2 separate regions of the Homo sapiens genome follow, and region 1 is linked to region 2. The links come from fine-mapping of genetic effects on gene expression. A gene starts in region 2. The other region holds a variant in brackets. All regions are shown on one strand. Distances are from middle to middle. Region 1 has its middle 160 kb from the start of ARID1B. Region 2 holds the start of ARID1B (AT-rich interaction domain 1B).

Region 1 (8,671 bases), 160 kb before region 2:
AGTAAGGCATGTCATACATGGCAGCAGGAGAGAGAGAGTGCAGGGGAAACTGCCAAACATTTTTAAAACCATTGGCTGCTCTGAGAACTCACTCACTATCATGAGAACAGCATGGGGGAAGCTGTCCCCATGATCCAATCACCTCCCACTTGGTCCCGCCCTCAACACCTGGGGATTACAATTCAAGATGAGATTTGGGTGGGGACACAGAGCCAAACCATATCATTCCACCCCTGGCCCCTCCCAAATTTCATGTCCTTTTCACATTTGAAAACCAATCATGCCTTCCCAACAGTCTCTCAAAGTCTTAATTCAGTATTAACCCAAAAGTCAAAGTCCAAAGTTTCATCTGAGACAAGGCAAGTCCCTTCCACCTATGAGCCTGTAAAATCACTGTTACTTCCAAGATATAATGGGGGTACAGGTATTGGTACATGTTCCCATTCCAACTGGGAGAAATTGGCCAAAAAAAAAAGGGATCACAGGCACCATGCAAGTCCAAAACCCAGCCAGGCAGTCTTTAAATCTTAAAGCTCCAAAACCTCCTTTGACTCCATGTCTCACATCCAGGGCACACCAGTGCAGTGGTGGGCTCCACAGCCTTGGGCAGCCCCACCCCTATAGCTGTGTAGGGTACAGCCCCTGCAGCTGCTTTCAGGGGCTGGCATTGAGTGCCTGTGGCTTTTCTAGGAGCAAGTTGCAAGCTATTGGTGGATCTACTTTTCTGGGGTCTGGCAAACTGTGACCCTCTTCTCACAGCTCCACTAGGTGGTGCCCATATGTGGACTCTGTGTGAGGACTCCAACCCCACATTTCCCTTTCACACTGCCCTAGGAGAGGTTCTCCATGAGGGCTCTGGCCCTGCAGCAGACTTCTGCCTGGACATCCAAGAGAATCCATACATCTTCTGAAATCTAGGCAGAGGTTCCCAAACCTCAACTCTTGTCTTCTGTACACCCACAGGCCCAACACCACATGGAAGCCACCAAGGCTTGGGGCTTGCACCCTCTGAAGAAATAACCTGAGATGTGCCTTGGCCCCTTTAGCTTGGGCTGGAGCTGGAGTGGCTGGGACACAGGGTACCAAGTCCCAAAGCTGCACAGAGCAGTGGGGCCCTGAGCTGGGCCCAGGAAGCCATTTTTCCCTCCTAGGCCTCCAGGCCTATGATGGGAGGGGCTGCCCTGAAGTTCTCTGACATGCCCTGAAGACATTTTCCCCAATGTCACGGCTATTACCATTCAACTCCTCATTAGTTATGAAAATTTCTGCAGCTAGTTTGAATTCCTCCCCAGAAAATGGAATTTTCTTTTCTTCTACATGGTCAGGCTAAAAATTTTCCAAACCTTTATGCTCTGCTTCCCTTTTAAACATAAGTTCCAATTTCAAACCAAGTCTTTGTCAATGCTGAACATTTATATATTATAACTGAACATTTTCAGAATAAGCCAGGTTATCTTTTGGATGTTTTGTCACTTAGAAATTTCTTCTGCCAGATACCCTAAATAATCTCTCTCAAGTTCAAAGTTCCACAGATTTCTAGGGCAGAGGCAAAATGCCGCCAGTCTCTTTGCTAAAGCATATAGCATGAGTGACCTTTAATCCATTTCTCAATAAGTTCTTCATCTTCATTTGAGACTACTTCAGTCTGGACTTCATTGTCCATATCACTATCAGCATTTTGGTCAAAACCATTCAACAAGTCTCTAGGAAGTTCCAAACTTTCCCACATCTTCCTGTCTTCTTCTGAGTCCTCCAAACTATTCCAACTTCTGCCTGTTACCCAGTTCCAAAATTGCTAAACATTTCCAGGTTATCTTTACAGGCGTATCCCACTCTGCTGGTACCAATCTTCTGTATTAGCCCATTCTCACACTGCTATAAGGATACTAAGTGAAACTGGGTAATTTATAAACAAAAGAGGTTTAATCAACTCACATTTCCACATGACTGGGGAGGCCTCAGAAAACTTACAATCATGGCAGAAGGTGAAGGAGAAGCAAGGCAGGTCTAACATGGTAGCAGGAGAGAGAGAGTGCAGGGGAAACTGCCAAAACCATCAGCTCTCATGAGAATTAACTATCATGAGAATAGCATGGGGGAAACCATCCCCATGATCCACCTAGTCCCTCCCTTGACACCTGGGAATTACAATTTGAGATGAGATTTGGGTGCGGACACAGAACCAAACCATATCAAATGGGAAGAGTGGTTGAAATTAAAATATTCTAAGATGTTAGTCAAGTATTAAGTTATTAGTCAGGAAGTATGTAAATAACACTTACCTTGACACGAATATGAAGTATCATGTTACACTTTTAGGATAATCAGAAAAAAAAAAAATAGGAATAGTATGCATAGCTTCCAGTGAAATTGAAGTGCAGGGAGGAAAAAAGAGTGAAAACTAAATTAACCAATAAAGTGGATAATAGGGAAGTTAAAGCAAAGAAAAGGTAGAATAAGTGAAAAGGAAAAATTGATCTGTAATCATAATAGATCTCTATCTACCAGGTAGAAGAAAGATTCTTCAATCACTTTTTAAAAATCGAAATCTGGCTATGTGTTTCTATAAGAGATATGTTTAAAACATACTAGTAAAGAAACGTTATAAATAAAGAAATAGAGAAAAAACATGCCGGCCGGGCACAGCGGCTCATGACTGTAATCCCAGCACCTTGGGAGGCCAAAGCAGGCGGATCACTTGAGGTCAGGAGTTTGAGACCAGACTGGCCAACATGGTGAAATCCCCTCTCTACTAAAAATACAAAAATTAGCCAGGTATGGTGCCAGGCACCTGTAATCGCAGCTACTTGGGAGTCTGAGGCAGGAGAATCACTTGAACCCGGGGGGCAGAGGTTGCAGGGAGCCAAGATTTCATCACTGCACTCCAGCCTAGGCGACAGAGCGAGAGTCCATCTCAAAATAAATAAATAAAAAAGAAAAAGAAAAGAAAAAAACATGTCAAATAAATACACACCAAATGTAGGCTGGTATTGTTACATAATATAAGGCAACACAACACAATGTTAAGACGAAAAGCTTAACCAGGGAAAAGATGTTCACTACACAGTGATAAAGGGAAAGCTCATGGGGAAAATCTTCCCATCTTAAACTTTTATTAATTTAATAAAACAACCTCAGAATATATTAAATTGTTAGAATTATAAGGAAAAATAGACTGATTGAAAAACATGGTGGGAGATTCTAGCACACGTCTCTCTGAATGTTTGGTAGATTAAGCAGAATAAAAAATAGAAAGGGCCAGGGATGTTGGCTCATGCCTATAATCCTAGCACTTTGGGAGGCCGAGGTGGGTGGATCACCTGAGGTGAGGTGTTCTAGACCAGCCTGGCCAACGTGGTGAAACCCCCATCTCTACTAAAACTACAAAAATCAGCCAGGCATAGTGGCAGGCACCTGTAATCCCAGCTACTCAGAAGGCTGAGGCAGGAGAGTCACCTGAGCCCAGGAGGTGGAGGTTGCAGTGAGCCAAGATTGCACCACCGCACTCCAGCCTAGGTGGAGACTCCATTTCAAAAAAAAAAAAAAAAAGAAAGGATGTAGAAGATTCACATAGAAGGATGCAGAAGGATGGAGAACAGCATAGTTACCAAGGGGTTGGATGGATAGATAGATAGATGATAGACAGATGATAGATAGATAGATACATTACATATATACATAGATGACAGATAGATGGATAGATACTAGATAATTAGATGATAGATGATAGAGAGAGAAAATTATTTTTTAATGGTTTTTATGTATTTGAAAATAAAGTATATTTTCTAATTTGAGAATCCAGTAATTTTTTTTAATCCTGGCTGTGGGTAATATAAACAACACATAAGTGCGTCAGGATTTTGAGGTACTCTTCTCACTCTCAACAGCATTTGTCAGACTTTTATTAGAAGCATCATGTTTCACGCCACTGCACTCCAGCCTGGGTGACAGAGCAAGAACCTGTCTCTGAACAACAAACAAACAAAAAATTTTTTTAAAGAAGCAGCATCGTGTTCTGTTCAGGATACCCACTCAGAAGTGAAGGACAAGAATACAGGAAAGGCTACAGCAAAGGAACAAAGGAAACTTGAAAGTTTTGGAAAGAGACTCCTTCCATTCAAATCAGTGGCCAGGAGCTCATACAGACTTTTTTAAGAGGTTAAGATAAGAATTTGTTTACACTTTAGAACAAGATAATGGGATGTGGGAAGAATGCTCTTCACCGAGGTAAGCTCAAGCAGAAAGGAGAGGAATTTAAGGACAAGAAACATCTCTCAGAATCCAAGAAACCATGTGCAGGTAGCATTCCTGATGCCCTTGGGAACTGAGTCCCTTTTTCTGCCTCTCAGGGCCACACAACATTCCATCCATCTTCCGCTGCTCACTGCCCCACTCTCCTTCCTGTAGACCAGCTTCCTAGGTGCATCATTAGTGTGCCAGGGCCCCAGACAGCGCCCGCAGACCAAAGTCTACATGGCCTGCATTCCGGCAGCA[C/T]TCTCTCTCATTTCCTAATTCCAAATGACTGGCAAAGAGCCAAGCCATGCAAGACTTAAGTTCCCAGACAGGGCAGAGTCAGGAACGCACCCGCCCTTATCACCCAAGGCCAGGAGGAGTGGCGGATTCTAATGGTGCACGGCCGTTTACAGCAGGAAAAGCTGTGGGCAGAGAAGCTGTAATAGACCTACCCTCTACATTGAGTAACGTGAATCGTTCTACTCAATTTCAAAGAAAGAAGTAAGTATGCCATTTGCAAGAAAAGATATTAAGGTTGATAAATGAGAAGAACAGACTTAGTGGAGGAATTGTAATCACTTTGATATTCATTCAACTAGCGTTTATTAAACACTTACCGTGTGTCAGGGACTAAACCAGGCAAGGATGATACAAAGGTAGAAGGCCTGCCCACAAAGAATTCACACTGTCATAGAATACATTGCAAAGAAAAGCAATGCCATCACCTTCCCTAGAAAATGTAAGGATCAAGTCTTCTGGGGAACTTTAAATTCACTAGAGTCCAAGGCACTCCAACTATTCTTGAACGCCCCCTTGAAATGTCACTCCTCTCTTGCTTGTACGACTCTCTATGTGTGAGCCTTCGGTTTTTTGTGACTCTAGGAATAGCTACTTCATGTTAGGAAGCCACTTGTAGAAAGGCAGCTAGATCAAGCACCTTTGTATTTTGTTGTGTTTATTTTAACAAAGTTCAGAAGCCATTTAGTCAATTTTCTCTTAAAGTGTGTAGTATAGAGACCTAGGATTTACCAGCACACATGATCTAATACGACAAAGTCAGGGTGTCTTCAGCTTGTTACATTTTTACTACCATAGCCATCTGTTCTGCAGACAGAGTGCTGCTGGGTTTGTACAGTAGCCCCTTGCTCTGGGCTGCTCAGAGAGCATCACAAACATATTAGTCCTAATGCACGACTACGTTTCAGATGCTAGGAAATAAAATATTATTTTCTGGTGGCACAGAATTCGTGGGGAAAGAATCCCGGGCTCCTAATTTCCAGTCTCAAGTGAGAAACAAAAAACCCACAGCCCAGGCACTATCCCAGATCACCTGCTTCTAATTACCCCATTTTGTGGCGATGAGTTACTCATTAAGCTCAGTCTGGAGAACAGAACCAGAAGAAGCAGAGGTAAAATTTATTTTCCTTAAAAGGGTCTGGAGGGCACTCAGCGCAGTCCTGCAGGGACCCCAGCGATGACAGTCTCGGTTCCTCTCGTAGCTTCGCCACCGATAAGCTTTGGAGTGCCTCTGTACAGAGCTGGCCAGAACCCAGTTTGCTTGGGCCTTAGATTATTGGTCATAGAAACCCCTCCAAGTGGCTTGTTTGCATGCCACGTCTCTTTGATTGGTTGAGAGGGCTCAAGGGAGTTCAGTGGGAAAAGAAAGCTGGGTGCTTAATACAAATTAACTGGGACTTTGAGGAGTTCACTCACTGGAGTGTGAAATCTGATCTCACACAAGCCCATGCTGGAGCCCTTCCAGGGGGGTTCTGTTACCAAAAGCAGCAGACAAGCTGTTTTCTAGCATAGCTCCCTTATAAGCCAGCCCTGCCTGCGCACCCTGAGGTCAATGATGGAACGACGCCCAAACGGGGGCTCAGCTGAAGTGCCACTTGCCTCTCCTTGAGAAAGAACCTCCTCAGAGTTGACAGTTTTGACCATGGCTTCATTTCCACTGTTCTATTCCGAGAATTTGTCATCATGAAAGTTGTTTTTCCAAAAAGATAGATGGATTCAACTTGATGCAGAATTACATTGAATAAAGTCCACTGTACTTTCTAATTTATTTTTTCTGAGAACAGCTACAACGCATCTTACCAACCACCTTTCTGGCCAGGAAGGTCAGTGAAATGTGCCTTGAAACTTCCACATTGTGGTTCCACCGTACTTAACCGTAAGACCTTGGAAAACTTATTTAATTTACGTAAGCCTATTTCCCCATCTGTGATATTAGGACAGTAACACTACCCATCTCGTGGTTGTAGATTAAATGAGAAAATGTAGGCATCTGGCAACCACCACAGTAATAATTGTTTCAAGCAAAGAATCATCAACAAATGCTAAAACTAGTGGGTGAAGGTAGGATAGAAAGTAGGCTGGGAAGCAGATATTTACATAGCCTCAAAGAATCTCTTCAAGAGATACCAATTAATTACAAAGTGAAAAATACTAACGTTACAGAGAAGGAAATGGCCAGACATCACCCTAGTCAAGGGATCAAAATTAATGACACCCACACTAATGGACAGAGGCGTAGCACACTCCTCCTGACACACAGGATTGAGAACACAGCAGCAGAACCACCTGCCAACATTGCATCTGGATTAGTCCATTTTCACACTGCTGATAAAGACATAGCCAAGACTGGGCAATTTACAAAAGAAAGAGGTTTAATGTACTCACAGTTCCACATGGCTGGGGAGGCCTCACAATCACGGCAAAAGGTGAAAGGTACATCTCACATGGTGGCAGACAAGGGAAGAGAACTTGTGCAGTGAAACTCCACCTTATAGAATCATCAGATCTCATAAGACTTATTCACTATCATGAGAACAGCACAGGAAAGACCCACCCCCATGATTCAATTACCTCCCACTGGGTCCCTCCCACAACATGTGGACAGTGGGGGAGCTACAATTCAAGAGGAGCTTTGGGTGGGGACACAGCCAAACCATAACAGCATCCCTGAATCGAAGCATGTGGAAACACAAGATAAACTCAGATCAAGAAAGAGTGCACAACATAACTCGCCTGTCTTCTTCAAAAATGTCAAAGTTACAGCAGCAGAGAGAATAATGACCCCAATAGTACCTGGAACTTGTGGAGAAGTTAGCATGCATGGCAAAAGCATTCTTATAGATGTACTGATTACCCTGGATGAGCTAGGCAGACCCAATCTAATCACATGAGGCCTTAAAGGGGCTTTCCCAGCGGTGGTCAGAGGTCAGACAGACGTAACAACATGAGAGGAACTCAACTAGCCATTGATAGCTCTGCAGATGGAGAAATGGGCCACACGTCAAGGAATGCAGGTGACATCTAGAAGCTGGAAAAGGCAAGGAAACAGATTCCCCACCCCCTAGAGCCTCCAGAAGGGAATTCTGCCCTCCCCACACCTTTTTTTTTTAAGCCCAGGGATACCATCTTGGACTTCTGACCGACACAACTGTAAGGTAATAAACTTTTGTTGTTAAAGACACTAATTTTATGGTAAATTGTTACAGCAGCAATAGAAAACTAATACAGTCATGAAAGACAAAGAATGAGAAACAGGCCAGGTGCTGCAGCTCACGCCTGTAATCCCAGCACTTTGGGAGGCCAAGGCAGGTGGATCACTTGAGGCCAGGAGTTTGAGACTGGCCTGGGCAACTTGGCAAAACACCGTCTCTACTAAAATACAAAAACTAGCTGGTCATGGTGGCTCACACCTGTAGTCCCAGCTACTTGGGAGACTAAGGCATGAGAATCACTTGAACCCAAAAGGTGGAAGTTGCAGTGAGCCAAGATCATGCTGCTGCACTGTAGCCTGGGCAACAGAGCAAGACTCTGTCTCAAAAAAAAAAAAACAAAAAAAGAACAAGGAACTGTTGCAAATTAAAGGAGGCTAAAGATGCATGACAACTAGATACAAGGTGTGATCTTGGATTCAATCACGGATCAAAAAGAGACATTAGTGGGGCAACTGGAAAACTCTGAGATCTTTAGCACAGCAAATACTCTTGTATCAATGTTAGTTTTCTGATTTGGGTTATTGTACTGGTCATGGAAAAAAATGACCTTGTTTTAGGAAATACACACTGAAGTATTTAGAGGTAAAGGAGCATCATGTCTGCAACTTATTCTCAAATGTTTCATATATATATGTTGTGTGTGTATGTAACACACACACAACATATATACATATGGAGAGAGAAAGAGAGAATGAGAGAGAAGTGTAGTAAAATGTTAGCATTTGGTAAGTCTGTGAAGAATACACAGGAATATTTTATACTATTATTGCAACTTTTGTGTGTCTTAAATTTTGCAAAATGAGAAATTTGAAATACAGAAAAAGTAACAAATGTATGTAAAATACTTAGCACCCTCCTTGACACTCAGCAAATTTTCAGTGAATCTTGACTTTGGTTGAGCTTTCAGAGTTTAGCATCTATGCCCTCCT
Region 2 (8,671 bases):
AGTAAGTGATTTTCACTAATGGCAAAATGATTGAGGACAGTACTGGAAATAAAAGCAGCCATTGAACACACATTTGTCTAAAAGTTACAAGAAATTTATAAATGAGGCTGTGATAAAGTCATTCAAAAGCGGACAGTCCAGGATAAAATAAAAAGTACAATGTATTAAAATGTAGTAAGGTGTTTCTTAATGTATTTCACTGGTGTTACTATGTTTCTAAGGAATTTGGAGAGAAACTGTAGTAGCCTGATGTTAAACTTAAGGTTCTGGAAGTCCAGACTCCACAGTGGTGGGTTCCAGGTGTCAAGTCGGAGTTGTGTCAGCGGGAGGATTAGGGTCAGCTGCCCGCTAATGGCAGCCAGCAAGCCTCCGCTGCAGGAAATGCTGCGGGATGGGGAAGGTCTGAGCTTGCTTCTTTACTGGCCAAATCCCATGTGACATTGAGGGGCAGACCTTAGTAGGTATGAGTGATTGTTAATTGTTTATCTCCCCTATGAAGGACAGGACCAAGGTAATTATCTTTCATTTTCAAGGCATGGCACAAGGTAGACTCTAGGTAAATTTGTTGAATGACTACATGCAGTGTATCTCCATCCAGGTTTATTATCCCCACAATAATTTTCTTAGTAAGTTTATTAGTGCTACCGTCTGCCATAGTTCCCAAATTTGAACTATTTTTTTTGCCTAGGCTTCTTTTTTTTTTTCAAATCCTACCTAATTGATTTGCACAGTTGTTTCAAATCAAATGCTACATCCCATATCTTGCAGTGACGCAGTTATTCACTGCTAACGTCTAAATCGGAGAAGTGAAAAGGACAATTGTTTCGTGCTTTCTTAAGTCCCTGACCAAGATCAGTAGGGAAATCCCATTAGCTCTATTCATCGCATTTCTCATAAATCTAAAAGGAAAGCAAGTATCCAAAGCTTTATTCTTTAATAGTTCTTATTTGTAAAACCTTGACAGGGCTTTATTCTAAATTGCTTCCAAATTACATAAAGAATAGTTAGAAATATGATGGGCAGTGAATCGTGATAGTTTCAGTCATCGAATAAATAAGTAGAACAGTAAAAGGGGACTAATCTGAAAGCAAACAGAGTATGATGGGCTACGATGAGGCAAAAAGAACAGAACTGTGGAATTCTTAAACTACCATCTGGCTCAATCCCCTTTAAGTGGCCAAGTTGAAGAGCCTTTTATTCAGTGCCCTAAAACTTATTCAAAAGGCGCAGTATTTGAATATTAATATTTCCATACAGTAAAAAAAAAAGTCTTTTGTAACCAAAAAGGAATGTTTAACAAAATAATGGGTAATCCTCTGGCTAAACATGAGGGCGTGGGGAGCACCCTGTGGGTGGGAGGTCGGCTGGAACCCAGGGTGGCTGCGGGCAGCCTCCGGGCCTTCCCCTCATGGCTTCTTTGTGGTTAGGGTAACTTATTAAAGTTGTCATTGTGGTTTGAAATTTAGGCAAGAGGTGTAAAATTAAGGAATTCATTAGGAAAAATGAGCGCAGTGATTTCTAGTACCTTATTTCATCAAAAAGAAACAATAAGGTAGAATTGCCATATGAGATAGTTGAGGCAAGGAACACAATGGAAATTTGAACCTGTGGTTGAAATTGTGCTTTTGTGTAATGGGAACCTATTTCATCACTTTGTAACAGACCCCTGACAATTGGTGTTTTGTTTGTTAAGCCCTGGATGTTTAAATGAAACTAAACAGGCTTTTATTTTGTTTTCCTGAGGTGTGTATGAAAAGTTGAGCAAATTCGAGTGCACTTCTTATCTTCAGCAAAGATGCTTTAGAAAGGTATTTTAGCATTCTCCGTGGTTTAAAAGACAAAACCAAGTCCTGCCGGCTTTGTGTTGTGCTTCTCCTACAGGCTGCAGTGCCTTCTGTCTGCTTTAGGGTGTGGCATCTGCCATTGGGGAGGAAAAACTGGCATGTGTCGCCTTTTATAGCAGACTGATTTCATTGTGCTGGGGGCCTCTATTTTATAGTCTCTTAGTTCCAATCTTCTAGTTGACTTGCTGAAGCAAATGGAATTAAAAGAGATTTTGACTTCTCTACTAATTTTTTTTTAGTTTCACGATTTGCCAATATGAAAAAATATTTTAAGGAAAAGGGCCATAGCTGAACTTGGTGACTCATTTTCCCTTTTAGGATTAGTTGTGAAAATAAGCCACAACATATGGCTACACTTGTATGAACTGACTTTGATATATTTTATCAATTTGAAAAAATGCACTTTTAGGATGATGTGTACATACTTAGTTTGACTATGTCTAAAAGCATAAATATGTAATTGATTTTAGAATATATGTATATACACACAAAACAGACATATATTTATATTTGCATATGAAAAACTAAAAATTCAACTTCTGTGGTGTAATGCGTATAATTAGTATGTATTTGAATATATAAAGGGAGAAAATCCAGGAAAAAATGTCAAAAAGGCACACTAACAAAGATGTAGTATTCTCTTGGCAAAAACTGATGAATGATTTGGCACGAATTCATCTTATGGTTCTGTTATTCTCTCTAACACACGATGATATATCCCGTTTTCCAGTTGTTTGCGTAGAATTGCAATTTGTTGTTTCTACACTCTATAATGACCCTTGGGTGTGCACCTGATTCCCTCCCCCCGACCCCAATTAGTCACCAGTTTTCCCATCAATCCTTTTCTATTTAGTCATGTAACATATTTACACTTGGTCAAACAAATAACCACTGCTGCAGTGGAAATGAACTAAAATAGTTTTTATGGAAAGCTGAAGAATGAAATAATTTTGGAAAACTATACTCTACCAAAACCGTAAGTATTGTTTCTGCCAGGTTTTAAATGCTTTCTCTCAATGAAAACTGAGTCCACACTAGTACAAGTGGGTCATTGCCTAAGGTTAAGAAGTCTTGCTTTTTAAAATGTTACTAGGGGACAATGCACATATTGAAAACATTAATAACAATGCAAATATTAAAAACATTATAAAATGTTAATAGACACCAATTTTTAAGAGAACAAAGTATGGAACATTTCTACATTAGGACTAGAGTTGACTGTTTTATATTATTATTGAAGTTATATTTATTAAATATAATGTCTATAATATTTTAGTTTCGTTCCACATCTCTTTGAAATGAATGTATATCGAGAGGGTTAACTGTGCACACGAAGCTCTGAAACATGATGAAAGGTGTCATATAGATTTATGAAGATACGAGCTAACCCATAGCTGTCGCTGTTCTGGCACCAAGAGTTAAATGTTCATGTGAAAGTTGGCGCAGAAAACACCACTGTACATACTCCACAGAGGACATCCAAGTGCATGTAAGAAAAATGCTCCTTTGGGAATACGTGGACATATTCCTTTGGAAATACACTGACAAACCTACATACGTGTTTAAGGTGCCTTCAAAAAGAGTTATGTAAACATTCTCTTTGGGGCGGGTGCAGTCAGTCATAAGCATTTATTGAGTACCTACTGGGTACAGGCCATAGGGCTCTCTGACCGGGGCTAACCTTCATTTCAAATCTTTCCTAATTTTGCAGTTGGAAGAAGTTGTGGGAATTACGCCGATGGCCCGAAATCAAGGCAGAGGCGAACGTTCTGAAAATTACATAACTCCTGGGAGAGACCGTGCTTTTGCAGATTGCCTAAATATTTTCTTTCTCCGTCGGCTCCTTGTAACCTCTGAGGCCAATAGACAACTTTGTTTCCCAGCCCTTCTCCCTCTTTTGTCTGCTCGTCAGACTCGTTTTCCACCTTTGTATCGTTCCTTTTAGACGTGAAAACAAACATGCGAACGCCCGGTTGGCAAGGAGACAGCGGCCCGGGGGGAAAGTGCAGGTTCCGGCCGCCCCACGCCGCCGCGCTCCGAGCGGCCGCCGAGCCGCCCCGGCCCCGGCCCCGGCCCCAGCCTTAGCCCAAGCCCGGCTGGGTCCCGCGAGGCTGCGCCGGGGCGGGCGGCGGCGGCCCGGGGACGAGTCCAGTCCGCGTTTTGCGAGTGCGCGGGAGTAATGCGAGCGAAGTGGATAATAGTTGCTCGAGCTCGCCCGCTGCCTCTCAAGCCATGCTGGGCCCGATAGGCTCAGCTAGTCGTGTATTTACCCATATCCGGGCTAGAGAGGAAAAGAGAAAAGTTTCATTTAAACCTGAACTAAAAACTTTCACCATGAAAGCACACAGCAGGAGCAGGCCCAGAGCGTAAGGCGTGCCCGGCCCGGCGCTCCGGCGGGGCCTGCGGAGGGGGAGGGGGTCGCGGCTTCCCGGCGGGCCGCGTGGATGCGCACAGGAGGGGCCGCGGCCTGAAAAGTGGGGGTTATTGTCTCCCCCCGCCCCCCGCCCGGCCTCGCCACGCCGCGGCGATCATGGCCGCGCGGGCAGCAGCGGCGGCGGCGGCGGCGGCGGCGCGGGCGCGGGCGCGGGCAGGCAGCGGCGAACGGCGGGCGCCCCCCGGGCCGCGGCCGGCGCCCGGAGCCCGGGACCTGGAGGCGGGGGCGCGCGGCGCGGCGGCGGCGGCGGCGGCACCGGGACCCATGCTGGGGGGCGGCGGCGACGGCGGCGGCGGCCTGAACAGTGTGCACCACCACCCCCTGCTCCCCCGTCACGAACTCAACATGGCCCATAACGCGGGCGCCGCGGCCGCCGCCGGCACCCACAGCGCCAAGAGCGGCGGCTCCGAGGCGGCTCTCAAGGAGGGTGGAAGCGCCGCCGCGCTGTCCTCCTCCTCCTCCTCCTCCGCGGCGGCAGCGGCGGCATCCTCTTCCTCCTCGTCGGGCCCGGGCTCGGCCATGGAGACGGGGCTGCTCCCCAACCACAAACTGAAAACCGTTGGCGAAGCCCCCGCCGCGCCGCCCCACCAGCAGCACCACCACCACCACCATGCCCACCACCACCACCACCATGCCCACCACCTCCACCACCACCACGCACTACAGCAGCAGCTAAACCAGTTCCAGCAGCAGCAGCAGCAGCAGCAACAGCAGCAGCAGCAGCAGCAGCAACAGCAACATCCCATTTCCAACAACAACAGCTTGGGCGGCGCGGGCGGCGGCGCGCCTCAGCCCGGCCCCGACATGGAGCAGCCGCAACATGGAGGCGCCAAGGACAGTGCTGCGGGCGGCCAGGCCGACCCCCCGGGCCCGCCGCTGCTGAGCAAGCCGGGCGACGAGGACGACGCGCCGCCCAAGATGGGGGAGCCGGCGGGCGGCCGCTACGAGCACCCGGGCTTGGGCGCCCTGGGCACGCAGCAGCCGCCGGTCGCCGTGCCCGGGGGCGGCGGCGGCCCGGCGGCCGTCCCGGAGTTTAATAATTACTATGGCAGCGCTGCCCCTGCGAGCGGCGGCCCCGGCGGCCGCGCTGGGCCTTGCTTTGATCAACATGGCGGACAACAAAGCCCCGGGATGGGGATGATGCACTCCGCCTCCGCCGCCGCCGCCGGGGCCCCCGGCAGCATGGACCCCCTGCAGAACTCCCACGAAGGGTACCCCAACAGCCAGTGCAACCATTATCCGGGCTACAGCCGGCCCGGCGCGGGCGGCGGCGGCGGCGGCGGCGGCGGAGGAGGAGGAGGCAGCGGAGGAGGAGGAGGAGGAGGAGGAGCAGGAGCAGGAGGAGCAGGAGCGGGAGCTGTGGCGGCGGCGGCCGCGGCGGCGGCGGCAGCAGCAGGAGGCGGCGGCGGCGGCGGCTATGGGGGCTCGTCCGCGGGGTACGGGGTGCTGAGCTCCCCCCGGCAGCAGGGCGGCGGCATGATGATGGGCCCCGGGGGCGGCGGGGCCGCGAGCCTCAGCAAGGCGGCCGCCGGCTCGGCGGCGGGGGGCTTCCAGCGCTTCGCCGGCCAGAACCAGCACCCGTCGGGGGCCACCCCGACCCTCAATCAGCTGCTCACCTCGCCCAGCCCCATGATGCGGAGCTACGGCGGCAGCTACCCCGAGTACAGCAGCCCCAGCGCGCCGCCGCCGCCGCCGTCGCAGCCCCAGTCCCAGGCGGCGGCGGCGGGGGCGGCGGCGGGCGGCCAGCAGGCGGCCGCGGGCATGGGCTTGGGCAAGGACATGGGCGCCCAGTACGCCGCTGCCAGCCCGGCCTGGGCGGCCGCGCAACAAAGGAGTCACCCGGCGATGAGCCCCGGCACCCCCGGACCGACCATGGGCAGATCCCAGGTAACCCTCGCGCCAGCCGGGCCTGCTTCCGCCCGGCGGCCTCGCCGCGCCGCGAGCCTGAGTTTCTTTCTTTGCCGCGTACTTTTCCCCGTCTTCCCGCGGGGGCGGCGGGGGCGCGGCGCCCAAAGCCATCTTGACGGGCGGCCGCCTCCCGCCGCGGTCGGGGCGCCCCGGGGGCCGGCGCGCTGTCCAGGCCTGGGAGGGCTTCGCCGGGCCGGGCCGGGCCGGGTGGCTTCTACCCCGCCGGCCCGCACCCGCGTCCCCCCCCTCCCCCAGGCCCGGGAACGCGAAGCGAGATCCCGAGGCGCCACCCGCGCGGTCGCCGTTTGGGGCGGCGGGGACCGTTCGGGTGCTTTTGTAACAAATAGGCTCTCCCGGCCAGGACGGCTGGGGCGAAGAGCCACCCGATCGGTTCTGGGAGCGCCCACAATGTGCTTTAACGGGGGAAAGAATGAGGAACTTTCTCACACCTTTAGCCACAGCACGTTCCCTCTTGGCTTCCGAGGTCCAGGCAGGGAAAATAGGTTAGCTTTGTGACAAGCGAGTGGGTTTTTCCTACTTAGGGAGAGCCATTCAGAGACACTCGGTGCGGGCTTCGAGCTCGAACGTTTGCTGGTAGGAATAATAACAAAATTTACAACGACATGGAGGTGCAATATTGTAAAATACATCGATTCGTTCCTTAGAATAGCCAGGGAAATCCATTATTGGGCTTACGGGCTGCTTGCAGGGAGTCACCTTCAACAGGCAGGCTATGTGAAAGGAGCACGTTCCGGATCAATTGAACTTATTTTGATCATGGATTAGGCATGCATTTTATTCAGCAAATCCAGTAAGATAGCAGACCAGTGAAAATTGATCTTTTGGGATCGTATTTATTTGGATTTTCTTTATTTTGCTGTCACCCGAGTCCTACAGCGCTGTTAGGAAGTGTCCTGCACTCTTGCTGTTTCTTGCTAGTAGGCTGAGCCTAAAGACTGACTTGATCTCCTTTGCAAGGTTTGGAATTTGAATTGTGGAGGTAAACTGGCTGTAATAGTCTCCAGACAGCTGCCTCTGAGTTGACATCTAATCTGCCATCTGATTGGCTCCCCTCTCACCATTGGGCATTTAGCACTGCTGATGTAAATAGAAGTGCTGAGCAGTACAGTCACAAAAATTCTTGCCACAAATAATAACTGAGCTCTATTACAAGCAAATGTAAGGTTCAGTATTTAAAGCTGAAACTATTATGAATCATAGTTATTAATAAGAGGATCAAATACAGAAAAACAGTTCGCTGGTGTCCAGTATTGGGCATTTACAAAATTCAGATCTTTGATGATAGTCTTAGAATATGCACATTACATATATCATAGACTTTAATTGGAGGCTGAGGATAAGGCCATTGAAAAATAAGTAAACCACGAATTTTACCAATTTTTGGATTTGTAAAGCCTTTATAAAAGTCTTCCCTTTACAAATTCAACTATGGAAAAATTTGAATTCTGTCAGCACACGCAGCTTAATAAAACCTTAAAATTTTTTTAAGATTTTGATAGGCAGCAATATATTTTGGTGATGTGTAATTCACCTGATAAACAAGATTTAAGCTTCATTTTTTTGTGATTTATCAGTTCTGACTGTTCAAAGATATTTGTGGATGAGGAGTTTTGGTTAGAATTGACATATTTAAAAAACGAAATGAGGAAACCACATATTTGTGCAGATAACAATAATTAAAAGGGGAAAAATGAGATATTCCTGTGAAATACTAAGAATCATTTCATATTTGCTTTTGATGTGGAGAATACAGAAATGCCCCATAATCTTTTTTTTTTCTTCATTGTTTTGTTAGATTAGGTAATTTGAGCCTTGTTTGAACTGCTTACACGATGAATTAGGGAAACTATATTCTAAGCAAGTTGTGCTGGGTGTCTTTTTTTCCAAATAATTTTTCTTTCATGTTAATGCTATGAAAGTTTAAAAAATCCTAATCTGTTAGAGAGGAACAACAGTCGTTGTATGTATATTTTTATGTAACTCATTTATTTTAGGAAGAGGTATTTTAACAATAATCATACCTTAGAGACTTGTCAGAGTGAAGGAAGGGCTGAATTTAACAAATAATCTTGTGAATCCTAGGCTGAACACTGCTGTCCACTGCTTTCAGATCTTTAGTTATTGGAGTTTTGCTTTTAAGGATAATAGATTTTTCTATTCTTAATAGAAAACTTGTGATTTCAACTTGTTTTTGATTCACACGAGGAAAAACATTATAGAGAAGAATCATGGAAATAAACCCACGTAATTAATTTTAAAAAGGTTTGCTTTGTCAGCCTGCTTTTAAAGGAGCAGTTTAAAATTCACATCTTCGTAAACTAGAGACGAATGAAGTTAGAGGCAGATGTAGGACCATGTTACTTTAGAGTATTTTTTTCTTAATGGTACCAATCATTTTCAGTATTTTGTTTTCTTGTAATGAGAATGAATCCATTATGTCCCTATGACCCTTGGGAATAGGCTT

The links.
Region 1: its variant is fine-mapped to the expression of ARID1B in whole blood (TOPMed, PIP above 0.99).

The regions. Positions count from the first base shown.
Region 1 is chr6:156,613,071-156,621,741 of GRCh38, forward strand. No RefSeq gene overlaps it. Among named protein-coding and RNA genes, the nearest start is that of ARID1B, 160 kb to the right of the region's middle. The variant C/T (reference allele first, on the strand shown) is at 4,495.
Region 2 is chr6:156,773,307-156,781,977 of GRCh38, forward strand. It overlaps ARID1B (AT-rich interaction domain 1B), which reads left to right and starts at 4,072. Exons shown (of 20, transcript NM_001374828.1): 1 at 4,072-6,165. The coding sequence starts at 4,375. MIR4466 (microRNA 4466) reads right to left here and starts at 6,425; the gene lies at 6,372-6,425. It overlaps LOC115308161 (a long non-coding RNA gene), which reads right to left and starts at 5,212. Exons shown (of 2, transcript NR_163974.1): 1 at 4,940-5,212; 2 at 3,054-4,125. RefSeq lists silencers at 209-503, 3,796-4,145, 4,166-4,405, 4,556-4,705, 4,776-4,845 and 4 more and an enhancer at 5,289-5,824.